4 linked regions of the Homo sapiens genome follow. The protein of the gene in region 1 purifies or fractionates together with the protein of each later gene. This does not show direct contact. Each region holds a gene or a part of one and is shown on either strand. Other genes may lie near its edges.

Region 1 (4,764 bases):
GTTATTCTCTTCCAAGACTGGTCTATGTGATCAGTAAAATAAAGAAAAGGTGATGACATGTTACTTCTGAGATTCGGTTATAGACACTGTGGCTTCCATCTTGGTTTCTTTCTTCCTCCTCGGATCACTTGCTCTGGGGGAAACCAGCTGTCATGTTATCAGCAGTGTCATACAGAGGCCACATAGCAAGAATTCCGGCGAACTGAATTCTCCTGCCAACCGCTCTGTCAGTGTGCATGGAGGCTGATCTTCCAGCTTCAGTCAAGCCACTTTTTTTAAAGGGTTGGATGGTAAATAGTTCGAGCTTTGCAGGCCATGTGGTTTATATTGCAACTACTCAACTTTTCCATCATACACAACATGAAAATTAACGTGTTCCCAGAAAATCTTATTTACAAAAACAGGCAGTAGTTTGGTAACTCTCCCATGACTTCAGTGCAGGCTCACAGCTTGATTGCCACCTCATGAAACCCTGAACCAGAGCTATGCAGATAAGCTGCTCCAATTCCTGAGCCTCAGGAAATGTGAGATATATTTCTTTCAAGTTGCTACACTTTAGTGTAATCGATAACTCATATACCATCATCCCACTCTCCACACCCCATGTATACCTCTTTTTACTTCTCTAATCTCTACTCTCCACCATTCATTCAGCTCAGGTCATAGAGGCCTCCTTGTTGTTCCTTGATTATACCAGGGGTGCTCGTGCCTTCGGGCCTTTGCACTTGCTATTTTTTATGCCTGAAGTACTTCTCCCCAAGACATCTACTTGGTTAGATTCAGTATCTCCTTTAGGTCTTTACTCAAATGAGCCTTTCTCAGTAAAGTGAGGAGGGGAATAGTGAGGATGTTCCCTCATCCTACTTATAAATGTAACACACCTTCCTTCCTACATTCCCTATTTCCTTTATTTTTCTTCATAGCATTTACCACCATGTAACATACACTTTATTTATTTTATTGTCTGTCTTCCTCCGCTGGATTGTAATCTTCATGAAGGCAGGAGTTTCCATTTTGTTTACTTCAGTATCCAAAACAGTACCTGGCCTGCAGTAGCCCTCAATAAATTTTATTATTTAACAAACCTCCCAACACCTTAAAGGCATGAATATCTTACTTGACATAATATACCCAGTCCCTGGCACATAATAAATATTAAATGCTAAATTAGCTTTCAAGAATTTTAAACATGTGAATATCAGATGTGTTTTTGAAAGATCACTCTAGGAAAAGAATGGAGGAAGCAATTGGTGTTTGTCAATACTTGATTCTCATTTGCTCTCTTTCAGAATATTCAGCCCTTCAGAATAAAGTCAGCTTCACGACTGTGAAGTCACATTCTCAAAATGCATAGTCTGATTAAGAGATTCTCTGCATTCTCATTCCTTCTTGTCATAGACTAACGAAATACTTCACTGTAATCTAAACTAGATCAGATCATGACATTTCTGTCAGGCAATTTCACCCATCCTCACTGTTCATTACTTCCTAAATGCAATTTAACCTTAAAATTTGCATTGTCCCTGTCCGATTTCCCAAAGCTACCCTCTTTCTCAACTTTGGGTTGCATAACTTACTGTGTGACTTTGGACGAATTACTTAACTCTATGTTCCTCAGTTTCCCTAGCTGCCAATGTGGATATTAATACTTATCTCAAAAGAATGTTATGATGATAAATGATTCAATTCATGTAAAATACTGAGAACAGGTCTGGTGCGGTGGCTCACACCTGTAATCCCAGCACTTTGGGAGGCCGAGACAGGTGGATCACTTGAGGTCAGGATTTCAAGACCAGCCTAGCCAACATGGTGAAATCTCATCTCTACTAAAAAAAATACAAAAGTTAGCTGGGCGTGGGATAGGCACCTGTAATCCCAGCTACTCGGGAGACTGAGGCAGGATTATCACTTGAGCCTAGGAGGTGGAGGTTGCAGTGAGCCATGATCATGCCACTGAACTCCAGCCTGGGCAACGAAGTGAGACTCCATCTCAAAAAACAAAACAACAACAAATCCATTCTCCACAATACAGTCTGATCTTTTTCAAAATGCATATCTCATCAGGTCACGTTACTTTCATTACAAGCTCCCATTGCCCTCAAGATGAAAACATGGACTTCAGTCCTGCATTGGCTAGCTTCTACTTTTCCAGATTATCCTCATGATCACATCTATTCCAGAATGTACTCTGGCCAACCAGACTCCCAATGCCCTGAGAACTTCAGAAGTGCTCCTCCCTCTGTCTGGAATGCCCTACTTTCCCCTTCCCAGATACTGCCTACCTTCCCTGTTCTATAAAGTGCTCACAAACTTCATTTGCCTTCCCAGATGAAATTCCTTTTATTAAGCCCTCCCTTTTGTAGCAGTAAATTTGTTCACATGTGATTTGATCAGTTTCCGTCATAATACTAACACAGCAGAGCAGGCTGGGTGTTTTTACTCATCACATACATCCTCAATGCTCTGCAGCGGTGCACAGTAGTAGGTACCTGGTTAACTATTTGTGAAAAACATGAAAAATGGGAACAATGGGGCAGAGCCAAGTTAGGAAGTTCAGTCATCCAAGAATCAAGGAGTTGCTGCACTGAGGTATTGCACGATGATGGGGGCACTTAAATTTTTAGGAAAACGAATTAAAACATTGAATTAAACAATAATTTCAAGCAATTCCCAAACCAATTAATGCATAGATTAGGTTGTAACTGTCCAGATATGTTTGGCGACACAATTCTATTAGCATCAAGACTCATCTAAGTACCTGAAGTAGTGGCACCACCATCAGGCTCAGCAGTACAAAAAGGCACATCATTCTTGTCCTCCCTAATCTCCTGCAGTATGGATTTTGCCAAACCATTTCGATTAGAGCTTTCAAAGGCCAGTTTATTCGGGAGAAAGGGTCCATCCACTTGTAAGTTTCAATAGACAACCAACACGCCGGTGTTGGGGTAGGGGCTTTTGAGAAAGAGATGAGGATGCTCTGAGACAAGATTCCAACCGAGTGAACTAATTTTTTCAGACAAGGACCACAGTAGATTCTGTAGCTGAGTTGAGATTTGGTTTTGAGTTTCTGGTGCCTACAAAGCAGGTGGTTAGGGCTTTCTAATAAGCAGTTTAACATTGGTTTACAGCAGGCCTCACACCCAGAGTCTTTGGGCTAACTATAAGAGCAAACTACAGAGCAACTTATATGTAAGAACTGTTCTAAGCACTTGAGATTACATTTACAAGCTATTAAAAACAGTATTTGAGACTGTCAAGACAATCATATACATTTTATACAGCTATATAAAAAATTGTTCTACAGTAAGATTTCCTGGCCGGGCATGGTGGTTCACAGCTATAATCAGCACTTTGGGAAGCCGAGGTGGGTAGATCACTTGAGGTCAGGAGTTTGAAACCAGCCTGGCCAACATGGCCAAACCCTACTCTACTAAAAGTACAAAAAATTAGCCGGGCATGGTGGCTCACACCTGTAATTCCAGCTATTTAGGAAGCTGAGTCACTGCACTCCAGCCTGGGTGACAGAACGAGAGTGTCTAAAAAAAAGATTTCCTATATAACGCTACTTTTACCTGAGTACATAAAAGATTTTGGAAATCGTGGGAAAAAATTATACCAGCTATAAGCTATTTAAATACTGTTGATAGTTATCAGAGGGAAATCAAAATCATATAAACAGCATACTCAAAAAAATGAGACAAAAGTTCAAGAGTATAATATTTTTTATTCACTGATAAACTAAAAGCCAATTTCTTGGTATTTCTCATGTATACTTCATTTATTTTATTAATAAGCAAAGCCCTGTAAGGGGAGCCTTTGCCTAGTCCTCCGACTCTGATTCATCTTCATCTTGACTAATCTGGAAGTAACGAAGTTCGTAGGTCTCCTTGTCAGATGCAACCACTCGAAGCCAATCACGAAGATTGTTCTTCTTAAGGTATTTCTTGGTAAGGTATTTCAAATACCTTTTAAAATAAAAACATAAATTTCATTAAGAAATACAATTCCTACTATGTAAAGGTTTACTATACGAAAAATATACATCATCATATTCATCTTTTCTGTACCTAGCTTCCTCCAAAATATTTCATCCTTCCATTCACAGGATGTATTGTGTAAGACTGTTAGGGTAGCATCCTCTTGTCATACTGCCACACTATATATTGTTCAAGATTGTTAGGGTAGCATTCTCTTGTCAAACTGCTACAGCCAAATTATTTAAGCAATATGATTTCACTCTTCAAATATATTATCTGTGTATATATATGTGAAAACGTTAACACCTCCTTCACCACTATCAAGCCCCCTAGCTCCCAATCCCACCCCGGCTCAACAGGCAACCTATTAATAATAGGGTTAAACCCATACTATGCTCATTAAGTCTCAACTTCTCTGAAAATTCTTGGGCTCTCTCTACATCTAATGTAACTAGAGTTGTATTTTACAATAATTATCTGATTATCTGTAAGATACTTGATTTACAGCTACTACAGCTACTACATTTTTATCTCTGAATCCTTAGTGATTATAATCTCAGTTAACATGTACTGCAACCACTTTAGTCCAAGCCATCATTGTCTCTCACTGAAATTAGCTCTTACATCTTCAGTTTCCACCAGATGTATCACCCTAGTCTTTTTCAGCCACAATAAACAATTGCTTCCCATTACACATCCCATGGCTTTCAAGATCTGCTCCCCAGACACCCTCCAATCTCATGCATTCCTCCCAGAACACTATACCCCAGACACACTGGCTTTGTTA
Region 2 (8,943 bases), on another chromosome or scaffold:
CCCGTGTAATGGGCTTGTCCTGATACTTCCACTATAACAGCTTTAAAATCACCACATTTCGCTTCCTGAAAAAAGATGAAGGGAGTATACTATCAAAATATTGCACTCGTATTATATCTGGCTTGAAAACTGTACTCTTGACTTTTATCATGTGAAGGAAAGGCCAAGGGTTAATCCTATGGGCCAGGGAAGGTTTTTAAGGAGAATGACATGGTCAGACTTGTGTTTTAGATAACTGTAGCTGTAAAGTGGGGATCAAACTGGAGAAGAGAGAGACAAGAGACCCAGAAACATGTTAAGAGATAACCTCAATTCACTGAATGATTGATTCCAGAGTCACTATGGGAGTTTTCAGTGAAGATGGAGAAGGGGAATATATACTAACATAGAGATAGTTTGGAGGTAGAACTGATAGGCCTCTTGATCAATGCATGTGGGAATTGAGGACTAGCAATAAGTTAATTATAACCATAGTTTCTAGCTTGGAAATGATGCTAGTGATGCCATTAAACACAATGGGGAGAGAAAGGAAGAGCACATTTGAGAAAGGAAGAAAGGAAGAACTTTTTAACAAGGTGAGTTTGAGACACCTCTGGGACAGTCATTTAGAGATGAGTATAATAAACAGTTGGGATTAAGAGCGTTATATTCAGAAAGACATACAGGGTAGGTAGTCAGGGCAGGGATAAACATTTGGGAGTCATCATCAGTAGATGGTTGAGAACTGAAGCCTAGGAAGTGGATGAAATTGCCCAGCAGCATCAAACTGTAGAAGAGATGAGAAGGAAGGTGGGGATGAAGTGACGGTAACATCTAAATGGAAGGACAGGGAAAGGAAGCTGCAGCAGGGGAAGAAACTGAGAAGGTACCATCAGGGAGCCTGGACGGGCCCACACAGACAGGGAGAGAGCATGATGCAAGTGAAGACATTCTGGCAAGCATGATCAATAACTATAAAACAAGTAACTGGAAACATTAACTTCAGCATATCTTTTTATGTTCTAATTTTTAAAAGAATAATAACTGAAGCTAAAGGTAAAATGTCAAATATTGTTAGGGTATAATACTTTATCTTTTTATATCTTTTTATAAAGCTGCTGTAGTGTGACAGGTCCTTCACCAGGTTATGTAAGGGTGTATGTCCACTGCTTGAACCCTGAAGGCTGGGGGGTAAGCCAAGGGCATGGTGCCCAGCCAAGAAGCAGGTATCCCTGAGAACCCAAATATCCCAGAGAATATCTGGGAACATACCAAGGAAAACAGTCCTATCACACATACACAGTAGGCAAAGAGCCAGAAAATTAGCTTAAAAGCAGCTTAGAGTCAGGAGGCAGGATGGGTCTCCACAGTTGTTCAGCTGCTTCCCAGGAGTGCCTTATATGGAAGTTCTAATAAATGCATCTACTTGCCAACCTGGACTTGTCTGAGTCATTCTTTGGTCTCTCGGCTCCCTCTCTATTTGGGGGGACATTGCAATCCCAGATTCTTCTCATAACAGCTCCTATAATATAAAGCCTCATTGACCTTTTGCTTTGTCTGACAGCAATATAATATAATGCTTAACAGCATGTGGTCTGTTCAGAGACCCACCTTCATGACCTGGATCTGCTACTCACTAACTAACCTCTGGTAAATTACCTAACTTCTCCAATTCTCCGTTTTATCATCTATTGAAAAACGATAATAACAGCACAGTACTGACCTTGTAGGATTCTTGTGAGGATTAAATGAGATGGCATGTATCAAGTGCTTAGCTTGGAAACTGATGCACAGTGAAGTATCCAATAAATGTATGTTGTTATTTTTATGTTCCATTTCAGATTTTGAAGACAGTATGTTCCAAATTTTTGCATACAACATAAATGGTTTCACATGTTTCAGATCACTATATGATGTAGAGATCCTTAAGGAAACTCTAATATTCAGAAACACCAAATCTTAAAAACAGCTATATTAGGATAGATTGTTTGCTATGTTAAAGGACTCTTTATGAGTAGAATAATTTACTGAATGTAGATCATTCTGTAGTAGATTTCATTTACTACTGAGATAAGATTCATTACTTAGCTGTTAGCACATTTAAAATTTTATTCCATTACAAAAATTTGATGTTCCACAACTTTTCAGGGCTTTCACATCCTATTATATCAAATAAAACACTATTATAAAATAAAACAAAAAAACAAAAAAAAACCCCAAATCCTAATGGTTCTCAAACCTTTTGGTCTTAGGACCCTTTTATACCTTAAGATTTGAGGACCCCAAAGAGTTTTTCTTTATATAAGTTATATCTATCAATATTTACTGTATTAGGAATTGGATATATCTGTTCATTACTTCATTTTAAAAATAACCCATTATACATTAACATATGAATAACACATTTTTGTGAAAATAACTGTTTGCCAAAACAAAAAAAATTATGAGAAAAGTGGCATTGTTTGATATTTTTGCAAACCTGTTTCATGTCTGGCTTAACAGAAGACAACTAGGTTCTCATATCTAGCTTCTGCATTCAATTGGTTGGGTTATCACATATCACATCGTAGCCTCTGAAGAACCCCACTGTACACTCTTGAGAGAATGAGAGTGAAAAGCAAATAATGTCATTATTATGAACACAGTTTTGACCCTCTGAACCCATGGAAAGGACCTTAGGGGCCCGCTGGGGCCCCAAGACCACACTGGATAACCAATGTCCTAGTTGAAAAGAAGTTTTTACAGGCCTGCTTTAAAATTCTCTTCTGAGAGCTGAGTGAAGAAATTTATCAAACACCCAACTCAGGCCTCTCCAGTCTCATGAGTGACACATTTATAAATAAGAAGCTAAGGGTGCCACTTACCCTCACAGCTTTCCCTGTGAATACTGAGCCAGTTGCACTGCTTTTGAAGGCTCTCATCTGGTTCAGTTCCAGAAGCCCTTTGTGATACTGTAAGGCAATTCGGGCTGTCACTCCTGAGCCAGTGGGACTTCTGTCAACCTGTTTCAGAATAAATGAAGACAGAATGTTCATAGTGTGTTCCATATTACCTGGCTTTTGTCCCTAAACATTACAGTTTTAATACCTGTTCATCTGCAAAAACACAAATGTTGGTGGTTGGTTCCTTGGTATAAGCATCTTTTCCATCTGTTAATATAGTTCCATATAAAAAGGCAAGGTCTTCACTATCAGGATGATTAATTTTAAACTGCAAGTAACAAAAAAAGATCACATGCAAAATAAATATTTTGATTCAAATTTATAAATAATGCAGATGGGTCATTCTTAGACATAACTTTTTAATCCTTATCATTTTTAAAATACCTTTTTGGGCAACGTATACTAATTGCTAGAAATTATGTCTTTGTCTAGATGAAGAAACATAGTTTTACTGCAATTTATAATTCTTATCATACTTTGAGTCCCTTCTAAGGAAGCTGTCCTGCATATAGCCTTTGCTAAAAAAGCAGTCCTATTTTATACACCCCTCCCACCCCAAATACACATAGTCTTTGCAGCACTGACCCCAGGATGGTCAATCCACAGGCTGGCGATGGCTGCTCAAACAGGATGAGCTAAGGCAATCATAGTCTTATTCTCAGGAGCTTAAGGAGGATAATGTGGGAAAATCAGGCTCTGAGTATCTAGAGCTGAAGTTAACACCAATGATAGAGACAAAGGCTGTGAGAGGATATAACATTCTGTAAGAATGCAGAAACTATTAGGCAAGAGAAACAATTGGAGGAAAAAAAGATTTATTGTAGACGATGAAGTCAGTTGATTCATCAAAAAGCAGCAGATATGCACACAAAGAAGCAGGCACTGGCAGGGTAGCTAAGTCACTCAATGGTAGATTCAGGCCCAAATATGCAAAGCTACTTGTTCTTGGAAGTCTAGTTCTTTAACTTTTCCTGGATTTCTGCAAACATTTACAGTATGACTGAGATTGCTATAATCTGACTTCCCTTGTATATGCTTACAATTAGTACTTTCTACTTCCAGTTACATGTCATTTAAAGCAATGGAACAGCTTTGGGTTCTTAACATCCAAAGAGTCCATCTGAAACCAAGTTAAAGCGGCCTGCAGATTGAATCTTTGTTCTCCATCCTCTTAAAGTGATACGCCCCACCTCCACTATAGCACATTCCAACATAACACTGTTCACAGGTATGCTCGCTTCCCCAACTGGAGCTAGCTCCTCAAAGGTGGGGTTTGTTCTTTCTTCGAGTCTCCAGGATCTAGCAGAATGTCTAACATATATACAGTATGTTTGTGGTAAATGTTTGTTAAAAGAGTGAATGAATTAAGATGAATTTATATTAACTTTAACTCTCCATCCCCATGGCCTTTTCCTAAATCTGCTTCAGCAGTGTGAATAGTCAACAGTTCACAGAGTAATTAATTGTACTGTCTGATACATCAATAACAGAACTTGTCCTCATTTTTCTCAGAATCCTTCCTCCCTCAAAGTCCACCCCTTGCCATCTTGTTGAGTTCAAACTCAAATGAGAAGTACAAAATTACACCTTTTATTAAGATATCCATGACTTTTTCTCTTGAATTCATGAAAAATTAGGAGAAATTATTTTGTGCCAAATTGTTAACTCAGACTATTAGCTGTCCTGCTTAATGGAACAGAAAACTGATGTAAATTCAGAGCTTCAAAAGTTGCTATCATAATATAATTGCACATATTGGTACTGGCAGTACCAGAAAAATAATTTAGAATACTGATACAGTGTATATTCTCATTTTAAGTTATAAATTATTTTAAAATAAAGCTTCAGAAAATGATAATTATTCGTACATTAGACACTATCTTACACAAGTTACTTTTTACTACTAATAAATTCTCACATACTAAATTCTCACGTACTAAACATTCAAATACTGTACATGTGTTTTATTTATAGGTCCCAATTTCAAGGTAAAATGTGCTTCACTCGTGCTAGAAGTGAAAGAATATCCTAGAATTATTATCTAAACTGATTTTATCAAATTAGCTTTCCCAAGTAAAAACTAGAGTTATTTAAGTAGTTATTTGAGTAACTTCTTAGCAATGTAGGAAAAAAATAATAGGAATTAATGTTCTCTATGAAATAAGAAAAAGGCTTAAATCTATTCTGTACACTATATTTTACATTTATTATTTTCAAGTTTAACAGAATGACCACACACATGCATTTAAAATTTGCAGAATTCTATAAATATATTTCTACACATTTAAGGAACTATAAACTATATTAGTATGTATGTATTATTAAATTTAGTAACTGCTAGGTGTGGTGGCTCACACCTGTAATCCCAACACTTTGGGAGGCCGAGCTGGGAGAATCACTTGAGGCCAGGAGTTTGAGGCCATCCTGGGCAACATAGTGACATCCTGTCTCTATATAAACACACACACACACTCACACAAACACAGATTTAGCTGGGTGTGATGGGGCATGCCTGTGGTCCCAGTTACTCTGGAGGCTGAGGCAGAAGCATCATTTTGAGCCTGGGAATTTGAAGTTACAGTAAGCTATGATCACACCACTGCACTACAGCCTGGGTGACAGAGCAAGACCCTGTCTCAAAAAAAATAATATTATCATTTACTGAACATTTACTATTGGCCAGACACTACTCTAAGTCCTTTACATGTATTGACTTATTTCATTCTCACAACCCTACAAAGCAGGTATTTTTTAATTTCCATTTTGCAGACAGGAAAACTGAGGCATATGGAGGTTACGTAACTTGCCCAAGGTTATATACGTTACCAGTGGTAAAGCTAGAACTCATAGATAGTTTTGCTCTAGAGCAGGAATGTCCAATCTTTTGGCTTCTCTGGGCCACACTGGGAGAAGAATTGTCTTGGGCCACACATAAGATACACTAACACTAACGAGAGCTGATGAGCTAAAAAAAAATTGCAAAAAAACTCATAATGTTTTAAGAAAGTTTACAAAATTTGTGTTGGGCCACATTCAAAGCCATCCTGGGCTGCATGTGGCTCACAGGCCACGGGTGGGACAAGCTTGCTCTAGAGCCTAAGATTTTAATAAGTACCCTATTCTTAGTACTATTAATAATTTAAACATCATTTAATTTTCTTTATAGACATAATAATGTATATTTCCTCCATGCCACAGAGAAGGGAATTGGTTATGAAGGCAGAGTATTACTGACCTGAGCTTTCACTGCCTCTGTCACTGCACTCGCTGCATCCACAAGGTCCCTGGTCTTTGCAGAACAAATGTCTAGTCCTAACTTTTCAGCAGTAACAAATGCATAAAATGCACCGCCATATGCAATGTCCACCATCACCTTTCCATGTCCAGGAACATCCACCATGAGATCTAAAAAAAAGATGTGTTTGGAAAGAAGATGTGTTTGTTAATAAGTATTTTAGCAATAAAATTCAAAGGATTTTTAATATGTTTATTTTTCAAGAGGGATGTTCTTTTCCTATCATAAAAATAATGAAGTAAAAATCCGTTTTTTAAATGAATAAGCATCGAGTGAATAATAGCTAGATGCATCATTCTATTTTTAACTTGATGATTGCAGAAGTTATAAACTAAAGCCATGCTTTCCCTAACTCATACAGACATATTCATTAACTTCCCTGAGGATCTTTTCTAGGAAACACCCCTGAGGCCGAGAGAGGGAAACCCAAGGGCATCCCTGTGAACACTAAGAAGGAAAATGTCTATTCCCCACTTGTACTATGAGAGATGGTTTAAAATAGTGAGGGTCTTGGATCCTATTTACAAATCAATTTTCTTCAGCCGTAATGTCAAAACATAAATTTTAATAAAAGATTTTTCTATATAAATTATATACACTTATCTACATGTTTTCATCTCCTTAAGGTATCCTGCAGGCAAACACAGAAAAATGCCATTGTAGAATCATTGACTGCTACAGCATCATTTTGCACCAGGGTTTTTATTTGAGCATTTTAAGTCTCAACATCCCCAAAGTTTCACCTGAAGGTCAGTAGTTTGAAATCTTGAATCTGTATTTCCAAAGAAAGGGGGCTGGGTGATGTTTATTTCGCCCCTTCTCAAATTTTCCTCTTCCCTAATTTAAGCTAGCTTGGTGATCACTGCCTTTTAGGGAAGCCTATGGCAGGGGAGAAAGCTTGTCTTTCATGTTTTTATTTTAGGGAAGCCTAAGCTCTCAGGGGAAAGACATCTGTTGGCAAAGGAGTGTCCTGAAGGGAGAAATATTTCTCCTAGAGATAAATTTTTTCTCCCTTGAGAAGAGTGGAGGCTGAAGGTCCTTAGTGCAGAGAGGACGTGTGTTAACTTCCCCCAGGGCACCACAGGAGCAGGAGTGAAGAAACAGAGGATGGGGAGGCAGTGCAGAGGGCAAGGACCAGGTAGGGTGGGGCAGCCAATGCTCCTGCTCCACTTTGCTGGTTAACTGTGTAAGCTGAGGACTGAAGTGCCATCCTCTCCAAGGCCACAGCACTTTTAAGAAACCTTTGCTCACACATATCAGGAAAGGGGACAACACATGGAGTGATGAGGCTAAGTGAACCAAAAGGACAGAGTAGAGTTTCAGCTTCAGAAATTAAGTTTTGGGAAAGAAAATATATCTTGTGTTCCTGAGTTTTCATACAAGGTCATACAAAGATATCAGTATGCTATCAGTCCACAGAAGGCTATCAGTATGCTATTAGTCCACACTAGTCCACAGAAGCCCTTTTAACCCATGATGTGTTAAAACAGAGCAAGTTTATAATCAAAAGAGTAAAACATGCTGTGGATTGTAACAACAAAACTGAATAAAAAATGTCTTTATCTTGATGCTGGCGCAACATGAAAAGCAAGTTTAATGAAAAGAGAATGGGCAAGTTGATAGAAATGAGGGACTGCTGGAAGGTGGAAAGCTAAAGTGAGGGTGAAGATCAGCACTTACCAGGAGACACAGGTGACGGTCCCAGGGTTCAGTCGGCCTGCCCTCTTCCCTTGATTGTAACAACTAAATGGGGCATTGGCCACCAATCCCGGGACCAGGATGAAATTGGGAAGCTGGTTCAGGAGAAGTCATCCCTGAGCCTACAATCATTTCCCTGGCCCAACCTTTCTAGAATCTTGGGTCTGGTTTTCTTAGGGTGGGCAGTTGGGTAGGGTGCTACACCTCACTGAGTTTCAGTTTCCTTTTCTTTAAAATGGACCAAATTTCCTTTAAAGTTACTCTTGTCCACCAATTATCTGTGACTATTTCATTTTTTAATCACTAAATTACTAACATTAAAAATTAAGATATTTATTTCACCCATGAGTACTTCCTATGTGGCAGGTCTTTACATACACTAGCCCCTTAATTCATTACATTAGTGCCTTAATTACTACAGCCCTGAGAGGTAGGTACTGTTTTACTTACTATCTTTACATTATTCCCTGGTTTACCCACTAAATAAGTGGCAGAGCTTGGGGTCAAACCCAGGACCAGGTGACTCCAAAGCCCAAACCCTTTCTACTAAAATATACAACCTCTATCCAGAACACAATCCAAAATCTAAGGGTTTTTCTTTTCTTCTATACAAGCATATCACTGAAATTTCAATTTGATTTACTTTGCTCAAGATTTAGTGAGCACCTACTATGTGCCGATTACTGTAGAAGATACGAGAAGTACAAGGAATAAAACATAGGCTTTTCCCCTTCTTGGAGTTTAGTTGGACAAGACAGATTTTAAAATGCTTTAAAATACACTAAGCACTATTCTAGAAAATTGAAACATATCTCCTTAAACTACAAAAAATTTTAAGGATGAGAGGGAAGCAATATGATAGGCCAGGGTTCCAACCCTAGTTCTGCCATTAGTGTGGCTTTGGTGTCTTGTGCAAACTGTAACTGCTATTTCTCCTAAAAGAGTTGTTTTGAAAATTCCACGTATGGGGAGTTCCTGGCACAGATTAGGGACTCGAAAGCCAAAACTTTAATTTCCAGTGGCAATAGG
Region 3 (9,233 bases), on another chromosome or scaffold:
ATTGGCCAGATGTGGTGGCATGGACCTATAATCCCAGTTACTTAGGAGGCTGAGGTGGGAGGATGGCTTGAGCCTGGGAGATTGAGGTTACAGTCAGTGGTGATTGCACCGCTGCCCTCCAGCCTAGGTGACAGAGCAAGACCCTGTCTTTTTTGGAGAAAGTCTTGCTCTATCACCTAGGCTGGAGCGCAGCGGTGCAATCACGGCTCACTGCAACCCCAAACCCCCAGGAGACAGGGTCTTGCTCTATCACAGGCTGTAGTGAGCCAAGATCAGGCCGCTGCACTGTAGCCTGAGCAACACAGTGAGATTCCATCTCAAATAATAATAATAATTAAGCTTAATGAAACCCCATAGTTAACAAGAAAATATAAAATTGTGTTCCTTATTTACTTAAAGTAGGGAAGTATGTAATACTTTGAAATACCTTTATAAAATGAAGTTTGGTCAATTAAGAGAACATTCTTTGTTTTTCAAACCTCTTTCTGCTTTCAACCTCACACAAAACTATAGGCAATTCAATAAAGGTATCACTTTACATTCCTACATAATTAATTTAGTATATTTCTCATTCATCTGAGAGCATGAATAAAATGTAAAAACAATATTTGGTCAAGAAACACTGCAATGCTAACTATAAGCAAGTTTATACATGAAATAAAAATCTCTAGTTTTAAAGAGATGTAATTTTTCAAAGTATTAAAAATGAATGGAAACTCTAGGACTTTTTTATCTTATTTTAAACTTCTATTTCTTTTTCATTTTATATATTTTTCCTTTTATTCTTAAATACTCTCCCATGCAAAAACCATAGGACTTTATCACCACAAAACCCTAGTGGGAATCAAGCAGTGAAAAAAAGCTTGAGTTCAGACTGTTACAACAATGACCAAACAATATGCCATGGTAATTTAAACTGAAGGAAAATGGACATTTAACTTGCCTCTAAGAGACCTGGGTTAACACCAACATAGGCTGTAGATTCAACCTAATGAGACTGGTCCCACTATAATCTATAAGAAATAGAATAAAACAGAAAGTATGGGAAATTTAATCAGCAGGAGCTAATGGAGAACTGCAAACAAAGTCAAAATTTGAAAATGGCACAAGTCAAAGATCCTACAGAAGGGCAATCATAAAAGCGACAGTAGTAATCTTTTTACCCAAAAAGGTTCTCCCAGATAGCAATCACTATCAACAGTGTCATCTTCCAATGTGAAGGTCAACAAAAAGAGAAGAGACAATATGGAGTATTAAAATGCAGAGTCATGAAAACAAATGAGCTGATATGACATCAAAGACATAATTTGGAAATGTCATTTCAAAAACACAATAGAAAAACAAGAGGAAGAAAGGCAATTAGTTAAAACACTACCTCATCACTACCATCACTATGCCTCCCTTTTAGCCAAGGAGTTGCATTCACACACTGACCTTGTAATTTCCATCTTCTCATGATTTTGAGGCAAACCTACTCCAAAGTGTTTTTCACATATGCATCTCACCAGCAAAAGCATTTCAAAACCAAAATATTAAAATTCCTCAGCTGAACTAAAATGAAAGAGGACATTTATGAAAGCTCAGTAAAAAGAATATGGAGATAAACTGGAAGGAAATCAGAAAATGTTTTTTGCAAAAAAATATGTCTATTAAGTATCAGACTAGACAACTAGTCTGAAAGGTAAAAGTGGAGGAATAAAAAACTCAGCACAAAAAGTTCTACACGTGTAAAATGTGAAGGATATACACATGAATTAGAGGAAGAGTCTCCGGGCTGGACAGCACAGTATTAAGAAAAATTCTTTACTAACCAGATTAAGGATAATTTGAGTTAATACATTGTTTCCACCTTTCTTCCTGGTATGTTCCTTAATCATGTGTCTAAATGTGAAAGGAAAATTTCTAATTTCCCTACATTTTCAAATATCCTGAAATCTCCAAAGAGCCTCCTTCTTGTAAAGCAATTGCTTTTGAAAAGTACTTTCAAGCAGTTTATCATCAATCTCATTTTAAAACGTTTACTTTTGAGAAAGATAATTCATTATAATTTCCTGAAATACTGAGCATCCTAAATTTTTCCAAATTAGCGGATGGGGATGGGAGTTAAGGGGGTTGGGGAGGCTGGCTGCTGGCCCAAATTTCCAGAATCTGATTTCCCTTTCCAAGAATCACAAGAGATAAGAAAAAAGAATTCAGGATAGCAAATAATCCATCTCATCTTAGTACCAAACAGTAAGTACACACATCTCCCACCAGTCTCCCACTCACCCTAGCCTCTCAGCCTAGGCTAGCCTCCATGCTTTTCCCAGTCTACTCCTGAATCGCTCCTAAGCTTTTGTCTCCGGGTCTTTGCTCTTGCTGCTCCCTAGCCTAGAGCACTTTTACCCCAGTATAGCTAAAGAAACAGCACCTTCACCTCTGTTGGGTTTTTCCTCCAGTGTTAGCTTCTCCATGAGGCCTTCTCAGGGCACTTAAAATTAACCCCTCCCCAAACCCCTATTATTCTATCTCCCTGACTCATTTTTTTCTTTCACATCGCTTACCACTACATCAAGTATTTTACCTATTTATCTGTCTAGAAATGAATTCCATACAGACAGGAATTGTTTGGTCTGTTTTGCTCCCAGTACTTAACAGTGTAGTAAGTGCTCAACAGGGTATCTGTCAAATAAATGAATGTATGAATGAATAAACAAATGAATGGAAGCACATGGTTCCTTCTCCCTCCCAAACCTCAAGAGTCTCAAATGCTGTCAGGTACCAAAAAGTCATGAAGCCCTCTCCTTTCTGGTGAAGCACTACCATCACCAGTGTATTCCTTGATGTTAAATTTCGAAAGAAACATCATGTGACATTTTTCCAGTTACGTGCCACTTTTAAATACTTTTCTAGTGTCCTCTTCTGTTGTCAACATCTGATGTAAAAGCCAAGTACATATTCCAGTTTGAGCACATCAGAAACTGCTACACCAACTAGTAAAACACGTAAAACCATCAATGAATAAGAGAAAGTATTTGTGTTCTAGGCAAAATGGACAAAATAAGGCCAAAGCTACAAATATTAGAAGGAGCAAAATTAATGTACAGAAAGAATGACAGAATTTTTTTTTCTAATCTAGGAAGTCATTTGATTCTAAAAAGGACATACTATATAAAGAAAGAATACCTTCCCCAGGCACAACATTGGGAATCAAAACTGCCTTAATTCAATGTATGTAGCTCTAGAAAGGAAGCTGTTCACAGCTTCTAGCCCCATACTCAATTTCTTGCAAGTTAAACTGGAATACTTACCTTTCTTACAGAGAGACTACGTGTGTTTAAGTGCTTTGACTTGCAGGAAAACGAAAACAACAAAATAAAAAACACAGTACTAAATAATTAACTGCAAAACAACGTTATTGCTTCCCAAACACGGTCATACGCTCCGCTTCTTTCATGCCCCCATTCCCTGTTCGCTTGATTTATGTTTCAGTCGCAAAACAAGTATTCAGAGTGCTTTTGGAAACTGACACTTAAGGATAATGCCCATTTCAACCTGATGTGAACATTTGGGTCCCCAAGGCTGCCATGGGCTCTAGTTTCCCAGCCTCGGTCCCAAGGTTCCGATCATGGTGGCTGCACCTCGCCTCAGGCCTGGTCCAGACCCAGTACTCTCGCCACGGAAGGAGTCTCCTCCGTCCAGATGCTCTGTGGGGAAGGCAGGAGCGCACCTCCCAGGGACCAGGTGTGGACAGGAGAGCCGGCAGGAGCAGCTGTCTGGCCGCAGCAGCTGTTACCGGGCCACCCCGAGACTGGGCGGGTGTCTGGCGCGGAGAAGCAAGCAGAGGAAGGCGAGCCCTCCAGCTCCGAGCAAGCCGGCCTGACACTGCCCACCCCACAACCCTCCTGCCTTGTTCGGCTCCCCTCGCAATGCCAAGAGGCCCTGGCCTAGGGGCTTCTCGGCTCCTCGCGGCCGTGACGCGCCAGGGCCCTCAGCGCCCCTCGCCCAGGAGGAGGCTCCCTCCGGCCCTGCACCTGACCTGTCCCGTCGCCTGACGGCCCAAGCCGGCCGGAGCGGCCTGTGGGTGTCCATGCGGCCGGGCCAGCTCGGGCAGGAGGAGCAGGGGCGCGAACGCGGACCGGAGACACAGGCGGCCCGGGACGCGGCGGCGGGGCCGGGGCGCGGAGCAGAGCCGGGCAGGGGAGCGACACGGAACGGCTGGTTACCTGCGGTCCGGGACAGGGAGTCTCAGAACCCCAGTCAGTCCTCAGCCTCAACAACACAAGATGGCCGACACGTCGCCACGCACGTCACGTGACCGCGCTCCCGCTCCGCCACGCCCCCTGCTCCGCCCCCGCCCCTTCCCGCTTCCCTCCCCACTCTCCAGTCTCCCACGACATCCTTCCTTTCCGCCACCACCCGCCCCTCTGCCCAGACACGCCCCTGCCCGAGACCCGGATGAAAGGTTGGAAGAGGGCGGGGCCGTGGCAGTGCGCAGGCTCCCGCTGACCCCTTGGCAGCAGCCGGGTACCTGCCCTTGAGTTGAGTGGTGTTGGTGTCCAGGGTTGGGCCCGGACCAGGCACCGTGTGACTCACTGTCCTGTACGCCCAGAGCTCTTTTGCAGTTCAAAAGCCTCTGCATCACTTGCGGGCTGGTTTTCCAAATTAGAACTTTTCCACAGCTTTTAGTCCGGCATTTTTCTTCGCAGTTGCCATCCTAGAGCGAATGGGAAAGCCGCAAAAGCTGAAATTCAAAGCAGTTTCTCTACTTGTTAACAGTTCTGGTAGAACTGGGAATTCATTTCAGAGTGTTGTACTGGGACAGCTGGAAAGGACTTGAGAGCTCTGATTCCTTCCTAGGACATCTGGGGCTATAACCCTTTTACCTAGAGATGAACTATTTTGGAATTGACAGATAAAATACAAGACACCCAGCAATATTTGGGGCACACACTGAAAAATTGTTCGTTGTTTTTCTGAAATTCAAATTTAATTGGGCGTCCTGTGTTTGCTAAATCTAGCAACTCTATCCTTAGGCATCCCATTCTTGCCTGTGTCTCCAACTTCTTCCTTCCTACAGGATCCTTCCTGTCAGCTTTAAAGATTACTTGTGTCTCCCATCTTAAAATGGAATGTTAAAAACTCCAATTCTCATGCCGGGCGCAGTGGCTCACACCTGTAATCTCAGCACTTTGGGAGGCGGAGGTGGGCGGATCACGAGGTCAGGAGATCGAGACCAGACCATCCTGGCTAACACGGTGAAATCCCGTCTCTACTAAAAATACAAAAAAAAATGTAGCCGGGCGTGGTGGCACGCACCTGCAGTCGCAGCTAGTCGGGAGGCTGAGGCAGGAGAATCGCTTGAACTGGGGAGGCAGACGTTGCAGTGAGCCGATATCGCGCCACTGCACTCCAGCCTGGCGACAGAGCAAGACTCCGTCTAAAACAAAAACAAAAACCTCCAATTCTCGGCCGGGCAGTGGCTCACGCCTGTAATCCCAGCACTTTGGGAGGCCGAGGCGGCGGATCACCTGAGGTTGGGAGTTTGAGACCAGCCTGACCAACATGGAGAAACCCCGTCTCTACTAAAAATACAAAATTAGCCGAGCGTGGTGGCGCATGCCTGTAATCCCAGCTACTTGGGTAGCTGAGGCAGGAGAATCGCTTGAACCCGGGATGCTGAGATTGCGGTGAGCCAAGATCGCGCCACTGCACGCCAGCCTGGGCAACAAGAGTGAAAATCCGTCTCGAAAAAAACAAATAAACAAACAAACAATCAAAAACACCAATTCTCCCTCCTGCGACCCTGTTCCCTTTCAAAGCCAAGCTGCACCAAAGAATTGTTTATATGCACTTTCTCCATTTCCACACCTGGCATGCAATCATCAACCACACCGATGTGGCTTCTGTCCTTTCCTATCTGCCTATTGCTTGCCCTAAGAACACCCCATCCTACAGGTTGATAACTGGAGTCTTTCAGTCCTCATCTTGACTTCGTGTTTCCCTGTCTTCAATATGATTGGCCTCTTCCTACTTTCTGAAACACTTTATTTATTTATTTATTTATTTTTGAGACAGTTTCGCTCTTGTTGCCCAGGCTGGAGTGCAATGGCGTGATCTCCGCTCACCGCAACCTCCGCCTCCCAGGTTCAAGCGATTCTCCTGCCTCACCCTCCCAAGTAACTGAGATTACAGGCATATGCCACCACGCCCGGCTAATTTTGTATTTTTAGTAGAGACGGGGTTTCTCCATATTGATCAGGCTGGTCTTGAACTCCCGACCTCAGGTGATCCGCCCACCTCGGCCTCCCAAAGTGCTGGGATTACAGACATGAGCCACCGCTCCCGGCCTTCTGAAACACTTTCTTCCCTTGACTTTTATACCCTTACCGCTCAAAGTGGTACAGTAGCATCAACATCACGTGGAGACTTGTTAGAAATACAGAAACTCAAAGGAGCCCTTCACAGTCCCATTCTGCAGAATTCTACCCCCATAGCTTGGGAAAACATAGAGAGATCCCATTTCTAAAAAAAAATAAATACATAATAATTAGCCAGGCGTGGTGGCGTGCACCTGCAGTCCTAGCTACTTGGGAGGCTGAGGATCACCAGCCCAGGAATACAAAGCTACAATGAGCTATGATCATGCCACTGCACTCCAGCCTGGGCAAAAGAGCAAGACCCTGTATCTAAAACAAACAATCAAAAAGAACTCTACCCATCATCCATGTTGTTCTCTTCTCCTTGATCTTCCCCCTGAACTAAGTGCTCCAGATAGGCCCATGTTAAAAGATTCGTAAACATGACATTATGTTTTAGCCTTTGCACATGCTGTTCCATCCTGCTGCAATGCCGTTCCCAACACTTACCCACTTCTCCCCAACCTGCAACTCCTGCCAGTCCATGTGTTACTGCCTCTGTGCCTCCATTAGACCAAAGAATTTACCCCTTGAGCTGTTATTTTTAAGGAAAAAAGTAATACTAATACTTGTTATGTACTGACCACCCCATTAAAAACTTTCCTTGCACTGTCTCATGTGATCCTAGTAAGAGCGCTATGGAGCAATCCAACCAGGCTTCTGAGAGAAGTGCTTACCATATCCAAATCTCAACCAGGATTTCCAAGCCCAGGCTGGCAAATTGTAGAACCCATGTCCCTAACCAACTTGTCATGCCACCTCTCTGATGCCATGCCACCTGTACATTGCCTATACATATATTTTTTAAATTAAGATATAATTTGCACACAATAAAATTTAGCACTTTTAGTGCACAGTTCTGCAACTTGAGACAAATATATACAAGTGGCCAGGCACGATGGCTCACGCCTGTAATACCAGCACTTTGGGAGGCTGAGGCAGTCAGATCACCTGAGTTCAGGAGTTCAAGACCAGCCTGGCCAACATGGTGAAACCCCATCTCTACTAAAAATACAAAAAAAAGTAGCTGAGCATGATAATGTAGAACTGTAGTTCCAGCTACTTGGGAGGCTGAGGTGGGAGGATCACTCGAGCCTGGGAAGCAGAGGTTACAGTGAACTGAGATTGTGTGCCACTGCACTCCAGCCTGGGTGATAGAGTGAGACCCTGTCTCAAAAAAAAAAAAAAAAAAAAAAGCTGGAGAAAATCCCAGCTTTTAACCATTGTGAGTGCTGCATTATTCCATCCAGCAACCTCTGCAGCTGGTATTGCCCTGACACACAGTAAATGCTCAACAAACACCAATAAAACCCAATCGATTCTTGATTATCTACTCTTCAGGAAGGGTGCTTTCCTTTTCTCCTTTTAGTAACTCTGTCTTTCCAGTGTTTCACTAAATAGTGGTATTAAATTACAACGTAGACTGATGCATGCTTTTGTCAGGGATAATAAAGTTTTAGCCGTAGTACACCACTGATAGAAACAGAAGTTGAGAATAATAGATCATTTGAGGATGGGAGGAGGGTAAGGAGTTTAATCCAAAACAAGTTTAATTTGTTATGAGCACATAGCTAGGCGAGGTGGCTCACACCTGTAATCCCAGCACGTTGGGAGGCTGAGGCGGGAGGATTGCTTGAGCCTGGGAGGTCAGGGCTGCAGTGAGCTGGGATCACACCACTGCACTCCACCCTGGGCAGCACAGCAAGATCCTGTCTCAAAAAAAAAATTGCCAGGGGTCATCACCTGTGACAGATTGTATTTTTCTAAAGATGGCTGCAACAATATCTTCCATTTGACTTACTTTTCTAGCACCTTCACTATCCTTTCTAGAGGTAGAGTCTAATTCCCAGTCCCTTGGACCCTATCACCAATAGAAAGTGGTAGAAGTAAAATGACATGACTTCAGTGCTAGATCATGAGGTGATATGCCTTTCACCTTGCTTCCTGAAACAGTCTTGTTTGAAGCAAAAACAGTTTGGCAGTCCCTGAAGCTGCCTGAAGCGTAAACCACATGGAGAGGCCCACATTGTTGTCCCATCACTAACCCCAACTGAGGTCCCAGCTGACAGCATCAACAACCAGACGTCTGAGTGAAAAATCTCACCAGGTGATCCCAGCCCTGAGCTGTCTAGTCACCCTCAGACATCAAAGCCTAAGACATCATGAAGCAGGGACAAGCATCCTTACTGTGCCTTCTCTGAATTCCTGATCCACCAAATCCATCAGCATCATAAAATGGGTGTTTTAAGCCACTATGTTTTGGGGTAATTTGTTAATAGCAACAGTAGCTGGAACATCATTGTTATGGATTGAACTGTGTTCCCCATGCTTGGTGCAGATGGCTCGCACCTCTAATGCCAGCTACTTGAGAGGCTGAGGCAGGAGGATTGCTTGAGGCCAGGAGTTCCCGACCAGTGTGGGCAACATAGTAAGACCTCATCTCTAAAAAAAAAAAATGTTTTTAGGCCAGGCACAGTGGCTTACGCCTGTAATCCCAGCACTTAGTGAGGCCAGGAGTTTGAGACCAGCCTGGCCAACATGGGGAAACCCCGTCTCTCCTAAAAATACAAAAATTAGCCAGGCGTGGTGGTGCGAGCCTGTAATCCCAGCTACTTGGGGGCTGAGGCGTAAGAATCGCTTGAACGTGGGAGGCGAAGGTTGCAGTGAGCCGAGATCGTGCCACTGCACTCCAGCCTGGGCAACAGAGCAAGACTGTCTCTAAATAAATAAAGAGAATGTTTTTAAATTAGCCGGGTGTGGTGGAACACACCTGTAGTTTCAGCTACTTGGGAGTCTGAGGTGGAAGGATCTTTTGAGTCCAGGAGTTTGATGATG
Region 4 (8,947 bases), on another chromosome or scaffold:
CACACACACACATCCCCCCCTTCCAAATTCTTTTATGTATTTACTAATTGAAAGAGAGCTGGAGTCTATGAAGATTCTTTTTTTTTTTTTTTTCTTGAGATAGAGTCTCGCTCTGTCGCCCAGGCTGGAGTGCAGTGGCGCTATCTCGGCTCACTGCAAGCCCCGCCTCCTGGGTTCACACCATTCTCCTGCCTCAGCCTCCCGAGTAGCTGGGACTACAGGCGCCCGCCACCACGCCTGGCTAATTTTTTGTATTTTTAGTAGAGACGGGGTTTCACCGTGTTAGCCAGGATGGTCTCCATCTCCTGACCTCGTGATCCGCCCGCCTCGGCCTCCCAAAAGTGCTGAGATTACAGGCGTGAGCCACCGCGCCCGGACTCTTTTTTTTTTTTTTTTTTTTTTTGAGACAGTCTTGCTCTGTTGCCCAGGCTAGAGTGCAGTGGTGCAAACTTGGCTCACTGCAACCTCTGCCTCCTTGGTTCAATTTTCCCACCTCAGCCTCCTGAGTAGCTGGGATTACAGGCGCCTGCCACCATGCCCAGCTAATTATTATTATTATTATTTTTTGTATTTTTAGTAGAGACGGGGTTTTACCATGTTGGCCAGGCTGGTCTCAAACTCCTGACCTTAGGTGATCCACCCACCTCAGCCTCCCAAAGTGCTGGGATTAAAGGCCTGAGCAACCATGCCCGGACTTGAAGATTCTTAATGGGAGGGGACTGCCAGCCCTGCCTGGGACCTGAAAAGTCCTGATCCAGGGCTGGGCCAGCCATGACAGTCTTATAACCCTCTCATCTCAAGAGGGAACCACCGACAAGACTCAGTGACGCCCCCAGAACTGTCACCGAGGGACTCCTGGGCGGAACCTCCTTACACCACCCCCACATGCCAGCTGTCCTGACCAAGGGACCCCTAGCTCATGGAGCACACCTGACACGGTGAGTGCGCCCACCATCCTCCATCCCTTCCAAAGTCCTTGAACTGGGAGTGGACGAGCTGGGACCCCCTGATTATCCCATAGAGGTCAAGGACTGCCCCACCCCAACTCTGCCCCAGCTGTCATCCAGCTGTGGTGTCCTGCCATATCCACCCCTCCAGGAGCCCCCAGCGCCCTTCAAAAGGCCCCCTTCCCTCTGAAGGGAAACTGCTGGTTTCCTCTGAGCCTCCCACAGTGACCGCCAGACCCAGTGTGAATTCATTCATTCATTCAGCTACTGCCACTCATTCATTCATTCACAAAGTTACCGAGTACCTAACAAGGTGCCACATTCACTCATTCATTCACTCACAAATGGTGCCCACAAGATGCTTCATTCATTCATTCATTCATTCATCCATAGTTATCATGTGCCCACAGGTCCTGGGCTCTGCTGAGTATAGTCTCCCCGCCGTCCAGGGTCCCCAACTCAGGGAAGCCAGCCAGGAAACAATTTATCTCCCTCAGATGAGAAGTGAGGGGAGCCCCGGAATGAAGTGAGTGGGGCAGTGAGGGGAGGACCCAGAAACACGTTTCAGCAAGTTCTGCACAATGAGTGGAGCTGGTCACTGAAGAATTTAGGGAGAAGGGTGGGTGCAGTGGCTCACGCCTGTAATCCCAGCACTTTGGGAGGCCAAGGCGGGCGGATCACCTGAGGTCAGGAGGTTGAGACCGGCCTGGCCAACATGGCGAAACCTTGTCTCTACTAAAAATACAAAAATTAGCCAGGCACGGTGGCAGGCACCTGTAATCCCAGCTACTTGGGAGGCTGAGACACAAGAATTGCTGGGAGGCAGAGGTTGCAGTAAGCCAAGATCGCACCACTGCACTCCAGCCTGGGTGACAGAATGAGACTCCGTCTCAAAAAAAAAAAAAAAAAGAAAAAAGAAAAAAGAAAAATTTAGGGAGAATGAATGTCACTCTCAAAGACCCCGGGGCACCCTTGGAGGGCTCACAGAAGCCACTGAGCACCCCTAAATCTAAATCTGATGCCATCAGCGATCTCCTGACATGGCAACTCTGTCAAAAGTTCTGACCTCCCCTTCTAAGACCCTCTGGGGAGCACCCCCGGTCTCAGAGGCCCTTCACTCAGCAGCACCACACCCCGAGACAAGCTGTCTCCTCCAAAGGCCTCCTGAGACCGCAGCCCACTCATTTTGTATTCACACATGAGGAATGCACACACTCTCTCACATGAACACCAACATACGCGTCTTTCTCAGTTTCAGATCCTATCCCCTGGGTGGCCCCCTTCAGCCCTTTCTCTTGAAGACCCTCGATAAGGACCTGATGGGAACATTCCTTGCTTCAGAGACCCCTAGGAGCAGGTCAGCCGACCTGGACTTGCAGCCCAGCTTCAAATGACCCTGGAGCAGTTAATATGCTTCTCCAACCTTCAGTCCCTACCTGTAAGAAATGGAGACACAATAACGTCTGTCTTACTATTAATAAATATGCAAAATATGGGAGTGATGATTAGGTCTGCCCTAATTCAAATGCCTCCCAATGGAGCCGCAACTTTGGCCGGGCCCTGTTTCACATATGCTGGAAATACAGAGTTGACCAAATTGATTCCTCAGCTTATAGACACACCAGGTTGTAAAGACTGTTTCTTTGGGTTTTTTTTTTTTTTTCTTTTTGAGACGGAGTCTTGCTCTGTCGCCCAGGCTGGAGTGCAGAGGCGCAATCTCGGCTCACTGCAAGCTCCGCCTCCCAGGTTCACGCCATTCTCCTTCCTCAGCCTCCTGAGTATCTGGGACTACAGGTGTCCACCACCACGCCCGGCTAATTTTTTTTGTATTTTTAGTAGAGACGGGTTTTCACCGTGTTAGCCAGGATGGTCTCGATCTCCTGACCTCGTGATCCACCTGCCTCGGCCTCCCAAAGTGCTGGGACTACAGGCGTGAGCCACCGCGCCCGGCTGGTTTTGTTTTGTTTTGTTTTTTGAGACAGCGTCTCACTCTGTCGCCCAGGCTGGAGTGCAGTGGCACAATCTCGGCTCACTGCAACCTCTGCCTCCTGGATTCACGCCATTCTCCTGCCTCAGCCTCCCAAGTAGCTGGGACTACAGGCACCCGCCATCATGCCTGGCTGATTTTTTGTATTTTTAGTAGAGACGGGGTTTCACCGTGTTAGCCAGGATGGTCTCAATCTCCTGACCTCATGATCCGCCTCCCAAAGTGCTGGGATTACAGGTGTGAGCCACCATGCCCGGCCTATTATTTTTATTTTTTGAGACAAGGTCTCGCTCTGTCGCCCAGGCTGGGGTGCAGTGGTGCAAACATAGCTCACTAGAGCCTTGAACTCCTGGTTTCAAGTGATCCTCTTGTCTCAGCCTCCTGAGTAGCTGGGACTACAGGTACGCACCATCATGCCCAGCTAATTGTTTTACTTTTTTGCAGAGATGGGGATCTTGCTATTTTGCCCAGGCTGGTCTGGAACTCCTGGCCTCAAGCGATCCTCCCACTTTGGCCTCCTGAGCGCCGGATTACAGGTGTGAGCCACCGCGCCTGGCCCAGTTTGTAAAGATTCTTCATCAGAGGGAAGAGGACTTCCAGCTCCATCTGGGACCTGATGAGTCCCAACCTGTGGCTGAGAATTAAAGGGCATGATGCCCATGAAACGCTCAGGCTGGAAGGGGCAAGACTCAGATTTACTCTATAAGAGAATGCCAGGGCCGGCCGGGCATGGTGGCTCACGCCTGTAATCCCAGCACTTTGGGAGCCCGAGATGGGCGGATGGCCTGAGACCAGGAGTTCCAGATCAGTCTGGCCAACACGGTGAAACCCCGTCTCTACTAAAAATACAAAATAATTAGCCAGGCGCGGTGGCGTGAGCCCGTAATCCCAGCTACTTGGGAGGCTGAGGCAAGGGAATTGCTCGAACCAGGGACGTGAAGGTTGCAGTGAGCCGAGATCTCGCCACTGCAGTCCAGCCCGGGCGACAGAGCAAGGCTCTGTCTCAAAAAAAAAAAAAAAAAAGGAGAATGCCAGGGCTTGCGGGTCCCCTTCATTCCCCTGCAAGGCTACCCTCATAGTAGCTCCTGATCCACCTCACCTAGGACCTCTCTGGCGGTCCCAGTAAAAGCTTCAGGTGTCCCTAACCACCCAGCACCCCCTGACCACAGAAAGACCTCATCCCACCCCAAAACTTTCTCAAACATCTGTACCGCCCTCAGATGCCCCAATCATGACTCATGATCCCCTCTAACAATCTCTACCCCGTTGGAAAGTCTCGTGGTCCCTTAGCTCCTTGGACCTGATAATAGCCCTGTCTCACTCCACAATTTCCCCGAGCCTGGCGATAGCTTGGGACCGCCTCAGATGACCCCAGGGACTAGCTTGTCGCATGTCACGACCTCCCAGTGCTCCCCAACCCTGCTGGACCCCCTACCAACATCCATTTCACACAAGATCCCCCCCTACGACCGCCCAAGACACCCCGATGACAACCACGTGCGTACCCGCGAGACTCCCAGACCCGTTCGATCCAAACAGCCCCCAGTAACCCCACGACCTCCCTGCGGCCTCGGCCCTCCACCCTCGGGGCCCGGCCGGCGCTCACCAGCGACGCTGGCAATACTGGTGGTGCTGTAGGCTTTGCGGTGGCAATCGGTGCCATCGGGGATATCCCAGTACTGACGAAAAACCTTCGGCGCCATAGCCCGCAATCTCGATCCCGCACCACGGACCCCGCCAGCTCGGGAAGCGCAAGGGCAGCCGCGGCTGGCTATCGCGAGACTTCTCGGGCTGCGCGCGCAACCTTTCGGGCTAGCGGGCCGGCAACAAGTGAGCAACTTTATTGATAGGCGCGGACATGGACATGGATCGCGCGCACGCGCCGGGGACCGGCCTGGAGGAAGAGAGTAGCACGTGCATCCCCAGGCCGATTCCTAGAGGGTGAAACTGAGGACGACTGCGATCAGTGCAGACAGATTTCGCTAGTCCCAGCTCAGGGAGTCCTAGGTTAGGGACTACTAGAGGCGGGGACTATCTACTAGGGGAGGGGCCGGGCTCAGACTGGGACGGGCGGGACTCCAGTTGATAGGAGCAAGACATGACGAAACAATGACTGGGGGGCGGGGCATGGCGGGGATGTGGCCACACCCAGTGTCAGAATCTGCATAGCGAGTGGTCATGCCCTGTGGTCAGTCACCAAGCTGGAGTCTGAGCAGCGTGCTACTGTTTTGGGCCGTGGACAGGATCAGGGGCGGGGATTATCGGGAAAGTGACCAATGACAATACGAGAAGCTCAGCGGGACGTGGCCTCTGTTCACCCCGCGGCTGTCCCACGCCCTAGGCCGGATGAAGTACACAGGCGCTTGACTTGGGGGCGTGGCTAGAATTGGAGGCATAACCTAAAAGGGACTTGACCAATCTGAGACTGTATAAGGGATGAAGGGGCGAGGCCGTGCCTGGATCTACCCCTGACAGGCCACAGGTTCGGGGGGCGTGGTCAGGCTTGCTGTTTCGCGGAGTCCGGGCCAATCCTGGTGTTAGCTTCCAAGTAGGGAGGGGACAGTATCGAAGGTGTGACCAATCTTGTTTCCAGAGCCTGAGTTGCGCGAGCCGCCAAAGGATGTGGCCAGCCTGGGGGCGTGGCTGTCAAGATCTTGTCCAATCCTAGAGTGAGCCCAAACTCAGGGGCGGAGTTTCATGATCCCGGAACCGGTGGTAGTGTTTGGGTTTGAGGAGAGCACGACCCAGCCCTCTGGGGTGGGGTCTAGCGGGGTCAGCGACCAATCGCGCCGAGGTCTAGTGGGGCGGGGCCCTCCCGGGGGCGGGGCCTGTGCCAGTTCCGGGCCGCCTGGGGGCGTGGCCGGGCCTGTACAGCAGCCTGGGCCATGTCGGCGCCGCCGGCCCTGCAGATCCGGGAGGCAAACGCACACCTGGCAGCCGTGCACCGGCGCGCAGCGGAGCTGGAGGCGCGGCTGGACGCGGCGGAGCGCACGGTGCACGCCCAAGCCGAGCGCCTGGCCCTCCACGACCAGCAGCTGCGCGCCGCCCTAGACGAACTGGGTCGCGCCAAGGACCGGTGAGGCCCGGGGCCGGCCAGGTGGACTTCACCGAGGCGGTAGGCGGAGGCAGAGCCGAGGCTGGAAAGCGAGGAAGGGCAGGGGGAACCGTGTGCACTTGTATAGACGCTAGACTGAGTATCGGATTGATAAAAACACCAAAAAACTCGAATTAGTAATCAGTATGTAAAGTTGCGAGAAGTGACACAGGTGTGGACCTCTAACTTCAAACAGGCCCACTTTCCCACAGGTGCTGAGCGACGCAGGGACCACAGACCGCCCAGCGTAGGCATTGGGAGCCATAGCAGGCTCTTCAGCAGGGGAGGAGGGGATCATATCAGCATTTTAACTTTTAAAATTTATTATTATTTTTTTGAGACGGAGTTTCGCTCTTGTCGCCTAGGCTGGAGTGCAGTGGCGTGATCTCAGCTCACTGCAACCTCCACCTCCCAGATTCAAGCGATTCTCCTGCCTCAGCCTCCCGTGTAGCTGGGATTACAGGCGCCCGCCACCACGCCCGGTCGATTTTTTGTATTTCTAGTAGAGACTGGTTTTCGTCACGTTGTGCAGGCTGGTCTCTAACTCCTGACCTCAGGTGATCCGCCCGCCTCAGCCTCCTAAAAGTGCTGGGATTACAGGGGTGAGCCACCGCACCCGGCCTAAATTTATTATTTTTGAGGCAGGGCCTCACTCCTATGCCCAGGCTGGAGTGCACCTCGACCTCCGGAGCTCAGGTGATTCTCCCACCTCAGTCTCCCAAGCAGCTGGGACTACAGGCGTCCACCACCACGCATGGCTTATTTTTTGTATTTTTTTGTAGAGACAGTTTTGCCCTGTTGCCCAGTTTGGTCTTGAACTCCTGGGCTCAAGCAGTCCTCCCACCTCACCCTTCCAAAGTGCTGGGATTACAGGCTAAGCCACCATGCCTATCTATTATTTTTGAGAGAGGGTCTTGCTCTGTTGCCCAGGCTGGAATGCAGTGGTGCGATCTCGACTCACTGCAGTCTCACCCTCCCTCCTCAGCCTCTCAAGTAGCTGGGATTACAGGCGTGCGACAGCACACCTGGCTGATTTAAAAAAAAAAATCCTTTAGAAATGGGGTCAGACTATGTTGCCTAGGCTGGCCTTGAACTCCTGGGCTCAAGTGATCCTCCTGCCTCAGCCTCCCGAAGTGCTGGGATTATAGGCACGAGCCACCATGCTGGCCCATATCAGCATTGTTGAAGAGTCCCTCTGACAGCTGAGGATGAAAGAGATGAGACAGGCACCCAGGGAGGTGGGAGGAGCTGGGTCCCAGGTGGGAACTATTACTTCAGAGCTAATTGGACATATTCATTTTTACCGAGCACCTGCTCTGTGCCAGGCACTCATTCATTCGTCTTCATTGAGCACCTACTGTGTGTCAGGCATTCTGCTGAGTACTGGAGCACATCAGTAAGACTTAGCCTTGCCCATTGGGTATCCACAGTCCAGTGGAGAGACAGACATGTCACTGGGCAGTTACATCATTGGTGGCCAGCGGCCATGATGGAGGGGCATATGGGGCTCTGAGGGATCTCAGAGTGAAGGCTTCCCAGAGGAAGAGCCTACTAAGAATAGGTGGGAAAAGATAATGGAAAGGAACGAACTGCAGGAAGAGTGAGGGGACGAAATGAGGGTTCTCATAAGAAAATGCCATAAACTGGCTGGGTGGTGGCTCACGCCTGTAATCCCAGCACTTTGGAAGGCTGAGGCAGGCAGATCACCTGAGGTCAGGAGTTCGAGACCAGCCTGGCCAACATGGCGAAACCCTGTCTCTACTAAAAATACAAAAAAATTAGCTGGGTGTGGTGGCACACGCCTGTAGTCCCAGCTACTCGGGAGGTTGAGGCACGAGAATCGCTTGAACCCAGGAGGCGGAAGTTGCAGTGAGCCGAAATTGTGCCACTGCACTCCAGCCTGGGCAACAGAGAGAGACTCTGTCTCAAACAAACAAAAAAACAAAATGCCATAAATTAAGTGGCTTAAACAAGAGGTTTGTTTCTCAGCGTTCTGGAGGCTGGACGTCCGAGAGCAGGGTGCCAGCATGGTCAGGTTATGGGAGGGCCCTCTTCCGGGCTTGCAGATTTCTGGCTTCTCTCTGTGTCCTCACAGGGCAGAGAGAGCCAGGGAGTTCTTTTGTATCTCTTCATATAAGCACACTAATCCCATCATAGAGACCCCCACCCTGACAACCTCATCTAACCCTAATCACCTCCAAAAAGCTCCATCTCTAAATACCCTTCTGCTATGGTTAGACTTTGTGTTTCCACCCAAATGTCAGCTTGAATTGTAATCCCATAATGCCCACGTGGTGTGGAAGGAACTGGTGGGAGGTAAATGAATCATGGGGGATGGTTTCCCCTTCATGCTATTCTCATGATAGTGAGTGAGTTCTCATGAGATCTGATGGCTGGGCGCAATGGCTCACGCCTATACTCTCAGCACTTTGGGAGGCCGAAGCGGTCAGATCACCTGAGGTCAAGAATTTGAGACCAGCCTGGCCAACATGGTGAAACCCTGTCTCTACTAAAAAAAAAAAAAAAAAAAAAAAAAATTAGCTGGGCATGGTGGCACACGCCTGCAGTCCCAGCTACTGGGGAGGCTGAGGAGGCAGAATTGCTTGAACTCGGGAGGCGGAGGTTGCAGTGAGCCGAGATCACACCACTGCACTCCAGCCTGGATGACAGAGCTAGATTCCGTCTCAATCAATAAGGGAGATCTGATGGTTTTATAAGGGATTCCCCCTTTGCTGGTCTCTCACTGTCTCTCCTGCTGCCCTATAAAGAGGTTCCTTCCATCATGATTGTAAGTTTCCCGAGGCCACCCCCAGCCATGTGGAAATGTGAGTCAATTACACCTCTTTATAAATCACCCAGTATCAGGTATGTCCTTAGAGCATCGTGAGAATGGACTAATACACCTCCCATTGGGGTTAG

Evidence for each region.
Region 2: the proteins of RPL22L1 (region 1) and L3HYPDH purify together in Homo sapiens (affinity purification with mass spectrometry; 3 studies listed by BioGRID and IntAct, with this or other methods). This does not show direct contact.
Region 3: the proteins of RPL22L1 (region 1) and GIGYF2 purify together in Homo sapiens (affinity purification with mass spectrometry; 2 studies listed by BioGRID and IntAct, with this or other methods). This does not show direct contact.
Region 4: the proteins of RPL22L1 (region 1) and VMAC purify together in Homo sapiens (affinity purification with mass spectrometry; 3 studies listed by BioGRID and IntAct, with this or other methods). This does not show direct contact.

Annotation. Positions count from the first base shown.
Region 1 is NC_000003.12:170,862,560-170,867,323, forward strand, and holds the end of RPL22L1 (ribosomal protein eL22-like), read right to left. Parts: intron 3,966-4,764; coding exon 3,821-3,965; 3' UTR 2,316-3,820; downstream 1-2,315.
Region 2 is NC_000014.9:59,473,026-59,481,968, forward strand, and holds part of L3HYPDH (trans-3-hydroxy-L-proline dehydratase), read right to left. Parts: intron 6,327-8,943; coding exon 6,157-6,326; intron 3,190-6,156; coding exon 3,067-3,189; intron 2,982-3,066; coding exon 2,844-2,981; coding exon of another isoform or gene 2,769-2,843; exon of another isoform or gene 2,575-2,768; coding exon of another isoform or gene 2,539-2,574; exon of another isoform or gene 1,502-2,538; coding exon of another isoform or gene 1,490-1,501; exon of another isoform or gene 66-1,489; coding exon 1-65. UniProt on the Homo sapiens protein: Catalyzes the dehydration of trans-3-hydroxy-L-proline to Delta(1)-pyrroline-2-carboxylate (Pyr2C). May be required to degrade trans-3-hydroxy-L-proline from the diet and originating from the degradation of proteins such as collagen-IV that contain it.
Region 3 is NC_000002.12:232,692,365-232,701,597, reverse strand, and holds the start of GIGYF2 (GRB10-interacting GYF protein 2), read right to left. Parts: upstream 4,268-9,233; 5' UTR 4,206-4,267; intron 1,014-4,205; exon of another isoform or gene 944-1,013; intron 1-943. UniProt on the Homo sapiens protein: Key component of the 4EHP-GYF2 complex, a multiprotein complex that acts as a repressor of translation initiation. In the 4EHP-GYF2 complex, acts as a factor that bridges EIF4E2 to ZFP36/TTP, linking translation repression with mRNA decay.
Region 4 is NC_000019.10:5,899,072-5,908,018, forward strand, and holds the start of VMAC (vimentin-type intermediate filament-associated coiled-coil protein), read left to right. Parts: upstream 1-5,800; 5' UTR 5,801-5,819; coding exon 5,820-6,010; intron 6,011-8,947. Other genes in the region: NDUFA11 (NADH dehydrogenase [ubiquinone] 1 alpha subcomplex subunit 11), read right to left, coding at 4,541-4,637.